2 separate regions of the Homo sapiens genome follow, and region 2 is reported to be linked to region 1. Evidence: microRNA targets listed by miRTarBase, many of them from high-throughput screens and not tested one by one. Region 1 holds a microRNA gene; the other region holds the end of a gene's coding sequence.
What was found. Region 1 holds the annotated microRNA hsa-miR-6841-5p (UAGGGUACUCAGAGCAAGUUGU, at 2,740-2,761, shown strand). A microRNA usually pairs through its seed, bases 2 to 8, with sites in the 3' UTR of a target mRNA and lowers its output. Matches are read on the target gene's strand: a 7mer-m8 pairs with bases 2 to 8, a 7mer-A1 pairs with bases 2 to 7 and ends in A, and an 8mer does both.

Region 1 (5,517 bases):
TCCATCCTCCCCCTTCCCTCTCTCCCCTGTCCTCTCTCTCCGGGCTCCCACCGCCGCCGCGGGCCGGGGAGCCACCGGCCGCCACCATGAGTTCCTTCAGCTACGAGCCGTACTACTCGACCTCCTACAAGCGGCGCTACGTGGAGACGCCCCGGGTGCACATCTCCAGCGTGCGCAGCGGCTACAGCACCGCACGCTCAGCTTACTCCAGCTACTCGGCGCCGGTGTCTTCCTCGCTGTCCGTGCGCCGCAGCTACTCCTCCAGCTCTGGATCGTTGATGCCCAGTCTGGAGAACCTCGACCTGAGCCAGGTAGCCGCCATCAGCAACGACCTCAAGTCCATCCGCACGCAGGAGAAGGCGCAGCTCCAGGACCTCAATGACCGCTTCGCCAGCTTCATCGAGCGCGTGCACGAGCTGGAGCAGCAGAACAAGGTCCTGGAAGCCGAGCTGCTGGTGCTGCGCCAGAAGCACTCCGAGCCATCCCGCTTCCGGGCGCTGTACGAGCAGGAGATCCGCGACCTGCGCCTGGCGGCGGAAGATGCCACCAACGAGAAGCAGGCGCTCCAGGGCGAGCGCGAAGGGCTGGAGGAGACCCTGCGCAACCTGCAGGCGCGCTATGAAGAGGAGGTGCTGAGCCGCGAGGACGCCGAGGGCCGGCTGATGGAAGCGCGCAAAGGCGCCGACGAGGCGGCGCTCGCTCGCGCCGAGCTCGAGAAGCGCATCGACAGCTTGATGGACGAAATCTCTTTTCTGAAGAAAGTGCACGAAGAGGAGATCGCCGAACTGCAGGCGCAGATCCAGTACGCGCAGATCTCCGTGGAGATGGACGTGACCAAGCCCGACCTTTCCGCCGCGCTCAAGGACATCCGCGCGCAGTACGAGAAGCTGGCCGCCAAGAACATGCAGAACGCTGAGGAATGGTTCAAGAGCCGCTTCACCGTGCTGACCGAGAGCGCCGCCAAGAACACCGACGCCGTGCGCGCCGCCAAGGACGAGGTGTCCGAGAGCCGTCGTCTGCTCAAGGCCAAGACCCTGGAAATCGAAGCATGCCGGGGCATGAATGAAGCGCTGGAGAAGCAGCTGCAGGAGCTGGAGGACAAGCAGAACGCCGACATCAGCGCTATGCAGGTGCGGCACGGCCAGAAACACAGGGGGGCGGGGGACTCGAGCAAGGGGGGGAGTTGGTGCGCCCAGAAAGTGGAGACCAGGGGTGGTGCGGCTGCACGCAGCTCTTAGGGATAGGGCTTGGCTCCTTGGCCACTGTGTGGGAGGGGTGGGGCACTTGAAGGGCGTGAGTGCGGGCGCCACTGTAGTCTGGGAGTGTGCTCCGTGCTGCTGCACCGGCGTTCCGCATTAAAGCTGCCCAGCCCTTGTTGGGTGGGGGAGGGGAAGACGTGGGAATTGGGCGTTGCCTCCGGCCTGCAGTGAGATCAGCTCTCTACTGACCTGCATTAACCACAAGTTACTTTGCAGCAACTATCGGATCATCTAGTTAATAAATAGTAGAGTGAACAACTCTCAATTAATTCTGAAGGATTACTGTGACCAGCATGCTTTATGACTAGTTTTACCAACCACTCCCTTCCTTTATTTAGTAGGTAGACAGGAAAATAGTCAACATTGTTTTAGGTAGTTAACTAGTGATGTTCATAGTAAACCATTTCCTTTTACCTTTTTTTTTTCTTTTTTTCTTTATGTGTAAAATCTTCTACAACATTTCTGTTTAAACATCTCCATCTTCTGGGGAGTAGAAAAAATACAATTTTAAAAAGATCTCCATTTTAAAACATCTCCATCTTCTGGGGAGTAGAAATTTTTTTCTTCTTCTGGGGAGTAGAAAAAATAATTTAGATACATAGGAAATATTTCATAGAAAATAATTTTTTTCTTTTTTTTGTTTACATCTGGCTATTTTCTTCTCATAAAGAAAGGCATTAGTTTCCTGGCATGTAACCCAGCTAAAGAAGAGTTAATCAGTGAATGAGAGACACAGTTTTTCTATCAACTTAGTCTGTTTGCATGCATTTTATGATGATCATTAAACAGTATTAAGTAAAGAAACAGAAGAACAGAATTTTCGTCCATCTTTTTTTTCATCTCAGGCTTCATGAACTTGGGTATTTTAGGCATGAAGGTTTTTCAAAAGATACAGGAAGTTATTCTAGGAGAGATTTTATCAAAGGTGTGCACCTTGATTTTAATCGAAACTAGGCCTTTGCAACTACACTACAGTAAAATAATAGAAGGGATTTATGCTCGGATTTTTTTTTTGTTTTATTTTTGTCTTCAAACAGGACACGATCAACAAATTAGAAAATGAATTGAGGACCACAAAGAGTGAAATGGCACGATACCTAAAAGAATACCAAGACCTCCTCAACGTGAAGATGGCTTTGGATATTGAGATTGCAGCTTACAGGTGAAAATAGAGGGGCAAAGACAGCAGCCATTAAACCTTAGGAAGAAAATCAGATCCCATTTAAAGTTATGTTGGATCAGAAACCTTCAATAATAGTCCTTTTGAAATAATGAAGTGTTAGTTTTTGGCTTCTTCCAAGAAGAGGGTATTTAGATATATAAGAATTTAACCCTGTAATTAGGAGTCCTGTTTTTATCTTGTCATTACACTTTAAATCTAATAGGATGATTTATTTATATTTTTTCTGGTCTCCATCAAAAGATCCCCAGGCATTAAGTATTGATAAATCCCAGCCCTGCTCCTGCTTGCCTTTGTGTTTAGGGTACTCAGAGCAAGTTGTGAAACACAGGTGTTTTTTAACCTCACCTTGCATCTGCATCCCCAGGAAACTCTTGGAAGGCGAGGAGACCCGACTCAGTTTCACCAGCGTGGGAAGCATAACCAGTGGCTACTCCCAGAGCTCCCAGGTCTTTGGCCGATCTGCCTACGGCGGTTTACAGACCAGCTCCTATCTGATGTCCACCCGCTCCTTCCCGTCCTACTACACCAGCCATGTCCAAGAGGAGCAGATCGAAGTGGAGGAAACCATTGAGGCTGCCAAGGCTGAGGAAGCCAAGGATGAGCCCCCCTCTGAAGGAGAAGCCGAGGAGGAGGAGAAGGACAAGGAAGAGGCCGAGGAAGAGGAGGCAGCTGAAGAGGAAGAAGGTATGATAAGAAAAAACCCCTGCAACTTCAAGTGTAAACTGGGTGTGGAGATTTGTTAGGAGGTGGATAAGACAAATGAAGCCTTGCTCATTTATTCATATATGACATTAGAATCATAAATAAATTTTCTGTTTGTTTAGCAAAACTTTCCTAAGGCATCTACTCTGAATGAGGTGATTGGTCAAAATTTTCATTTTTTAATATAATCATTTAACACAGCAGGTTGGTGTCCTAAAGAACAAAAATAGATACCAGACACATAATGAAAGAAATATTGAGGTTAAGTCTTGGAGAGGAGCAGAGCTTCCCATACCTAGAAGTGATCTCATTCGATTTAAATATGTGTTCAGTGGCAAATTATTCATGGCAAGCTTTGTCTGTTACATGTGCTTTTGGAGAGAGTGGAGCTGGGAGGTTTTGGTAGCATTCTGACAGTTGTGTTTGCAAATAAAACCTTTGCAGACATGTTTTGACTGGACTTACCCTGGATTTGCATTTTGTACATTTTCTTTTTATGTTAAAGCTGCCAAGGAAGAGTCTGAAGAAGCAAAAGAAGAAGAAGAAGGAGGTGAAGGTGAAGAAGGAGAGGAAACCAAAGAAGCTGAAGAGGAGGAGAAGAAAGTTGAAGGTGCTGGGGAGGAACAAGCAGCTAAGAAGAAAGATTGAACCCCCATTTCCTTAATTATTTCAGGAATAATTCTCCCGAAATCAGGTCAACCCCATCACCAACCAACCAACCAGTTGAGTTCCAGATTCTATGTGAATTAAAAAGTCAATATATGTATAATTCTGAGATGACTTAGGTTGGACATTCAATGTTGTGCTATGAATTTCCTCTTTATGCAGAGTATCTGTTTGCTTGCAGAGTGGCTTTCTGGCTTGCTGCCAGCCTGTGCATGGACCACGCTTATGAGTTCAGGATCTACGGCAATGTGAATCATTCAGATGTTTACAATAAAAAACACCACATGAGTAAATGAATTCACTAATGTTAATGTTAAACTTCATGGAAAAATAGTCCTTTGAACCTTCGGTGGTTAGCAATTAAAGACCCTGAGTTATGTGCAATAAATAGTAAATAAAGTTATACCGAATGATGTATTTTTTGCTGTGGTTGTTACTTAATTAAAATACCTTAAAGATGGCACCAATATAAAGTATATACCAGTGGACTATTGACCTCCAATTTTTTAAAAAGTTGAAATTTTAACAATTACCAATACTTTTTTTTCTTCCTTCAATTGGAAATTCTGAGGGATACAGTTATGTCATGATTACTTGTGAAATCTCTCCCCACAAAAATTTTACTGATAATAAACATGAGTAAATGAGAAAGTCTATAAATAACAATAGACTTTGCCTCATAACACGTGTTGTGTTAGGTTTTGGGATGGCTTTCTAGGGAGCAATTCTGAAATTACTTGACAGATACACTCTTTATGGTAAACAGGTCATTTCAGAGTCTAGAGTGCTAACCATTACACTATGGAACCATGATAAATAGGTCATTTCAAACTGATATGTCACAATGCAATATGGATAGAATATGAATCCCATACATTCATCCCTATAACTGCATTTTAAAATATAGTCTAAATATCATGGGAGGAGGTTAAAACCTGAGAACATGGTACAATAAGAAGGAATAATTTTTTATCTATATATAATTTCAGGAGAAGGGATTAAAACTACCAAAGGTTATTTGCCACTCCACTGCAAACATGTTGCCTGCAATCCTGAGCTCATGATTTAGTGTGTTGTTAAGCGTAATTCTGTTGCCTCAAGTAAATACCACTTAATGCTACACATTTTTAAACCTTTAAAAGCTACAGACACAAGTAATGAAATTATGAGTCACTTAAGGGGGGAGGTAATATGCTTGTATGTTACATTGACATTGCTCTGCATGTCTCTACTGGGAGATATTTGGATTTCAATGATAGCTTGACTGGTTGGACATTGCATCAAATACACGCCCCATGTATCCTTTCTGTCGTAAAGTTAAGAACGCTCTTGCATTTGATGTGGAATAAATATAGATGATATTACTATCTGCTATTCTGCCTTTGTTCTGAAACAATTGCTTTGTCAGCTAATTTCATTCAATATTTGTTTTTTAGACGATCTCTATAAGTTATTAATTTAACCTGAAACCAAAGTGGTCTCCATTTAAAGTTACTTAATCCCTTTGTACCACCTATTTCTAGTTAAATATATGTTGCTATGCAAATAGGTAAAGTGCTTCCTTGCCATGATGGTAATGGATTGGAACTATGAAGGCTCTCAGTGTATTGGCTTCTGTAAAGATGAGGCGTCTCCTCAGAAACAAAACTTTTCACATTTCTGCTTACTAGACCTGGGTTGATGTACATGGTAAGTCTCAAACAGATG
Region 2 (5,000 bases), not on the chromosome of region 1:
CAGGTGATCCACCCGTCTTGGCCTCCCAAAGTGCTGGGATTACAGGCATGAGCCACCGCGCCCAGCCCCATTTTCTTTACCTTTAGTTCATTTAAGTAGCCACATGCATCTGGTGCTTTAAAATTTGACTTTTTATCTGTTCCTAAGATCATCTGGCTGGGCCAGCTCCTATGGTCACCTCTGCCAGAAAGGCCTGTGGCCCAAGAGGCTGGTAGAGGCAGGGGCCATTCTGTCCCCACTCTGCCCCAGGCCCCTTGACCCGGCTGCTTCTGATTGACTCCCTCCCCTGTTGTCCTGCAGCCAAAGCCCGACCTTAACCCTGCAGTCCACCAACACGCACACGCAGAGCAGCAGCTCCAGCTCTGACGGAGGCCTCTTCCGCTCCCGGCCCGCCCACTCGCTCCCGCCTGGCGAGGACGGTCGTGTTGAGCCCTATGTGGACTTTGCTGAGTTTTACCGCCTCTGGAGCGTGGACCATGGCGAGCAGAGCGTGGTGACAGCACCGTAGGGCAGCCGGAGAATGCAGCCCAAGCAGGGCCTGGCATGGGGCAGGACAGGGTCCAGCCTTTTCCTAACATCTGCCTGTGCCACAACGGCCAGCAGGTGCCCCATCCTCTGCCCACAGCAGACTCTGTCCCATGGCTCTCCGGGCAGTAGAGTGTGTGAGTGCAGACTGGACCTGTGGTTCATACCTTGTCACCACCCGGGAAGCTGAAGGCCACTTCCTCCCAGATGGCCTCAGCCAGGACCATCGCCCTTTCTCAGAGCAGAGGGCCAGGTATAGAAACCGCAGTGGGCCTGCAAGCCGCCCGAGCCTCCCCAGCAGCCTCCTACAGAGCAGGAAGAGGCGCCCTGTGAACCCTGAGTGTTGCAGGCCCAGCAGACCCTGCTGTCCCAAGCCCACCCCTCCTCCCACCATCACCTCCCTCACCTCGGGACAGTAGCCCTCCACTTCTCCAGCCTCTCAGCCCTGTGCTCCTGCATCCAGAGTGGAACCCAGGCTGGTGTCCGCATCTGTCCCTGGGCCCCACCCCTGGACCTGCCTTGGTTGTGTCATCTGTTGTAAACGTTCAGGAGGACCAGGGCAGCATCTGGGGCCTGGGATGGCCACAGAAGGGGCAGGCCAGGTGGAAAGGAGCCAGGGGGAAGTGGTCTAAGAGACCTGGAACTGCCAGAGGATGGCGGCCTGGGCTTCCCCAGAGCCAGGCGTGCGGGAGAGGTGAGGACTGGCCCCGGTGGGCTGAGGCAGGGGCCGCTGTCGTCAGGCCTGAGCCAGGGTGAGCTGGTGCCTGCCTTGCATTTTCCTTCTGGTGCTGTGAAGACCATAGGCTGGCAGGCAGCTGAGATGAACTGTCTTTACCACTGATGAGGGGCCTCTGCCGGCTGAGGGTAGCAAGCAGGGGTTGTGAGTCAGGCTGGGGGACTTGTTTGAAAGAAAGAGGAGTGGAAAATGGTTCCAGGAGGGAAGAGGTTCTTTGAGACACAGTACCCTGGGAGGCATAGGAGAAGGGTCGGGCCAGCCCAGCCCAGGGCCTGAGTTAGACTATTTCCCACATGTTCTCTGCCTTCAGTGGGGAGGGGGTGCCACCAGGGCTGTCGGCCAGGATTGCCACTCCTGTTTCAGAGGAAGCAGGCCGAGAGACTTGCACCTTGGCCAAGCCACACAATCAGTGGGGCAGCCAGAGCTCAGACCTGAGCCATTTTGTCAGTATCCAGGACCCCCCGGATTCTCCACGCCCTCCCCATCTCCCAGTCTCCCTGCCCCCCATGCCCCAGACCGGCCCACCAGGGACTAGCCGCTGTCGCACAGCCTCTGGGGTGCTTGGTCTCTGCGAAGTCAAAGGCCTGACAGCTCTGTGGCCTGGGAATCCATTTTCCTGCGGCAGAGCAGGGCCTGGTGTGGAACCAGGGAGCTGTGGGAAGCCACAGCAGAAATGGAAGAAAAACAGGTCTCAGCCCAGGGTCCTCGCTCACTCCCTCACTCCCCACTTTGAAGCCATCTCTGTTCTGCAGGTGAGAGGATTTAAAGTCAGTCACAAAGGCTTGGGAACAAAAGGAATTCTCTTCCAAGAATGCCTCTGTGGTGCTGTTTGGTCTCTAGAAACAGGGTCACTTTTTTAATGTAGTAAAGAAGTAATAAATGGTGGCATTACACATTGTGATATTAATAGCGCTGTTGCTCATGTTTCCTGTAACTCGCAGTGGCCCTGGGAAGTGGACGCCTCCCCTCTTCACTGCCCTGGAGGTTCAAGAACTCGGCTCGCCAGGCTGCTAAGTGGCAGGGCTGGGATTTGAACCCAGGCCTTCTGGCTGCATTCCATGCTGCCGCCCCCACAGCCCCGGGGAAACATGGCTTGCCTGTTACCTCCCAGGCCCACTCTCGGACCCAGATGTGTTCATGCACATCTGAAGGGGGTGACAGTTTTCCCTGCTGCAGGCCAAGCCCTCTGGCCCATGGCCAGTGGCAGGGTTGTGGTGCCAACTCCACTCTGCTGAGAGTGAGCCTAGGGTCTTGGTGTGTGAGTGGTGCTGTGGCCACCCGGTGCTCAGGTCACCAGGGCGGAGGCCTTGCCCTCTTGCCAGCTAGTTTGCTTTACTGGGTTTTGCTTTGGGGAAGGATCTTCTATAAATACCAGTCCATAGAGCACTTCATCCTGCTTTCTGGGACGTAAGAACTCATCCCTCTAAGAAGAGCCTCTGCAACAGAAACCGAAACAGTGCATCTGCTTAGGAACAAAGCCACTCTCTGTCTGGTGTGGTCAGAGGGTCCCGGATGTCCCCCCCTCCACTCTGCTGGGCAGGGGCTGTGCCTGCGGAGCTTCCTTCCAGGATCTGTCCTTCTCAGCTTCCCCAGCCGAGCCGCCAGGGGTCCTGAGGACCACCATGGCCCCTGAACACTCCTGGAGCTTTGGTGTCAGCCCTGCCACCCGAGAGAGAGAGAGAGACATGGTGAGTAACTGAGGCACAGACAGGTTCAGGCACAGTCCTGGTCACAAGTGGCCACCATGCAACTCTGGGCCCCAGGTCTCTCCCAGCACCTGCTCTGCCCTAAGCGTGTGGGGCCGGGCGCTGCACTGTTGACTTTATGTCCCCTGTCCCCAGCCTTGGTGTTACTTACTGCACTTGAGCCTGTCTCCTGGAGGGAAATGAAGGTGAGAGGGACACTGTTTCATCTAAGAGGGGAAGCTCGGGAATGGGTTTGAGGACTTAAGGGGCCAGGAGTCAAGGTAAGGAAAGTGAATGGCACAGCGAGGCGAAGCTGTGCAGCCCTGGTGGGTCACTGCCACCGTCCACGTCCCCAGGTGGCGTCTGACACAAGGTGGGCCAAAGTGGCCCTCTCCAGCCTGTCTGCCTCCCATAGCCTCCGTGGGGAAAGCACTGAGGCAGGATCAGATGGAACCAGAGAAGCCCATCCCCCACCTCCTGCCCACTCATTCCTTAAAGACATCAGTCTCGGCCGGGCGCGGTGGCTCAGGCCTGTAATCCCAGCACTTTCAGAGGCCAAGGCAGGCAGATCATGAGGTCAGGAGATCGAGACCATCCTGGCTAACACGGTGAAACCCTGTCTCTACTAAAAATAAAAAAAGTTAGCCGGATGTGGTGGTGGGCACCTGTAGTCCCAGCTACTCTGGAGGCTGAGGCAGGAGAATAGCGTGAACCTGGGAGGCGGAGCTTGCAGTGAGCCAAGATAGCACCACTGCACTCCAGAGCCTGGGCGACAGAGCGAGACCCTGTCTCAAGAAAAAAAAAAAAGACATCAGTCTCTCCCAAAACCCAGCTAGGTTGCTGGCTTGACGGAGGTCCTGGCCCTCAGAAATCCCGTTGTCCCAGGACGGGGGCAGGTGGTCTGAGGGCGCCGCAGCACCCGTGAGCCATCCTCACTAGGAGTTGTACCGTCCTGGTCTGGTCGTCTCATTCTCTCATGAGCTGGGAGCTGGCAGCAGAGCCAGGAGCGGAGCTGCAGAGCAGGCTCCCCACGATGCCCGTGTCGGGATGTTCCTGCCAGTGGCAGTGGGGGCAGCCGGGCCTGTCTGGAGCGACTCCAGGCTGCTCAGACATCAAAGGGAAAAGCACCCGATTGTGTTGTTTGCGGGGCTAGTTCCTTCTTGTCCCTCAGGTCTTAGCACAGATGCCCCCTCTGGAAAGAGCCCTTCCCTGGCCCCCACCCCACCGCCCCCTGCCCGTCTCCCTGTTGTTTCCTCCATGGGTCACTCACTCTCAGCCTGTATCCGTGTCGCCTCTCGCCTGCTCCACGGGAGCAAGGGCTTTCTCTCTTATTCCACTAGGTCCCAGCCAGGCACGCAGCAGCCCCTCACACAAGCATGGCATGAGTCAGGGAGGAAGGGACAGAGGGAATGGCCGTGTGACCTTGGGCAGTAACTTGGGCTGGTTTTTCATGTACAAAATGAGGCGACGACCCACTTAGATTGCTGAACACATCGAGTGGCCATAGCCGTGAGAAGTGAGAGCTGCCCCTGCCCTACTGATGGGGAGACAGGTACAGGTGACGGGAGCGTTAGCCGAGATGTCCACCCATCCACCACACGCCTATGGGCACCCTTGTGCCATGAGGGCTCAGCCTGGGCCCTGGTGGAAGCAGGTACCGGGTCGATGCTACCTGCAGCCTCATCAGAGCCTAGCTCTTGGGCAGCGGGCGTGGTTCTGGCCTCTTCACAGCCGAAGTGCAGACAGGGGCTGTGGGCCAAGCTCCTGAAATTTCCGCCGACAAGGGCATCTTTCATGAGTCTTCCTTCTGGGCCCCCTGTTTTGAAACCAAACAAGGATGCAGATTTCTGCCAATCCCGATGAGCTCGGCATGAGCACAGGCTCTGTTCCCACGCGGAGGTGATGTCAGCCCCGAGCAGAGACAGGCGCTTGGCATTCCACGAGCCTGGGCGGCCGCGTCAGGGACAGACACAGTGTCTGACAGCTGGCTTTGAGAAATACTGACACCAGTTCACAGACTCCATTCCTACCTTCAGGGACCCCCAGAAAGGTGA

Region 2: miRTarBase lists TAB1 as a target of hsa-miR-6841-5p. Seed matches in the 3' UTR shown: 7mer-m8 at 1,486-1,492.

What each region holds. Positions count from the first base shown.
Region 1 is chr8:24,951,085-24,956,601 of GRCh38, reverse strand. MIR6841 (microRNA 6841) reads left to right here and starts at 2,735; the gene lies at 2,735-2,806. It overlaps NEFL (neurofilament light chain), which reads left to right. Exons shown (of 4, transcript NM_006158.5): 1 at 1-1,130; 2 at 2,297-2,421; 3 at 2,807-3,126; 4 at 3,650-5,517. The coding sequence starts at 87. The coding sequence ends at 3,792. RefSeq lists an enhancer at 1,240-2,439.
Region 2 is chr22:39,429,715-39,434,714 of GRCh38, forward strand. TAB1 (TGF-beta activated kinase 1 (MAP3K7) binding protein 1) reads left to right here. Exons shown (of 11, transcript NM_006116.3): 11 at 301-2,168. The coding sequence ends at 508. LOC100506472 (a long non-coding RNA gene) reads left to right here and starts at 2,446. Exons shown (of 4, transcript NR_040535.1): 1 at 2,446-2,949; 2 at 3,103-3,152; 3 at 3,515-3,522; 4 at 4,411-5,000. RefSeq lists enhancers at 3,799-4,517, 4,518-5,000.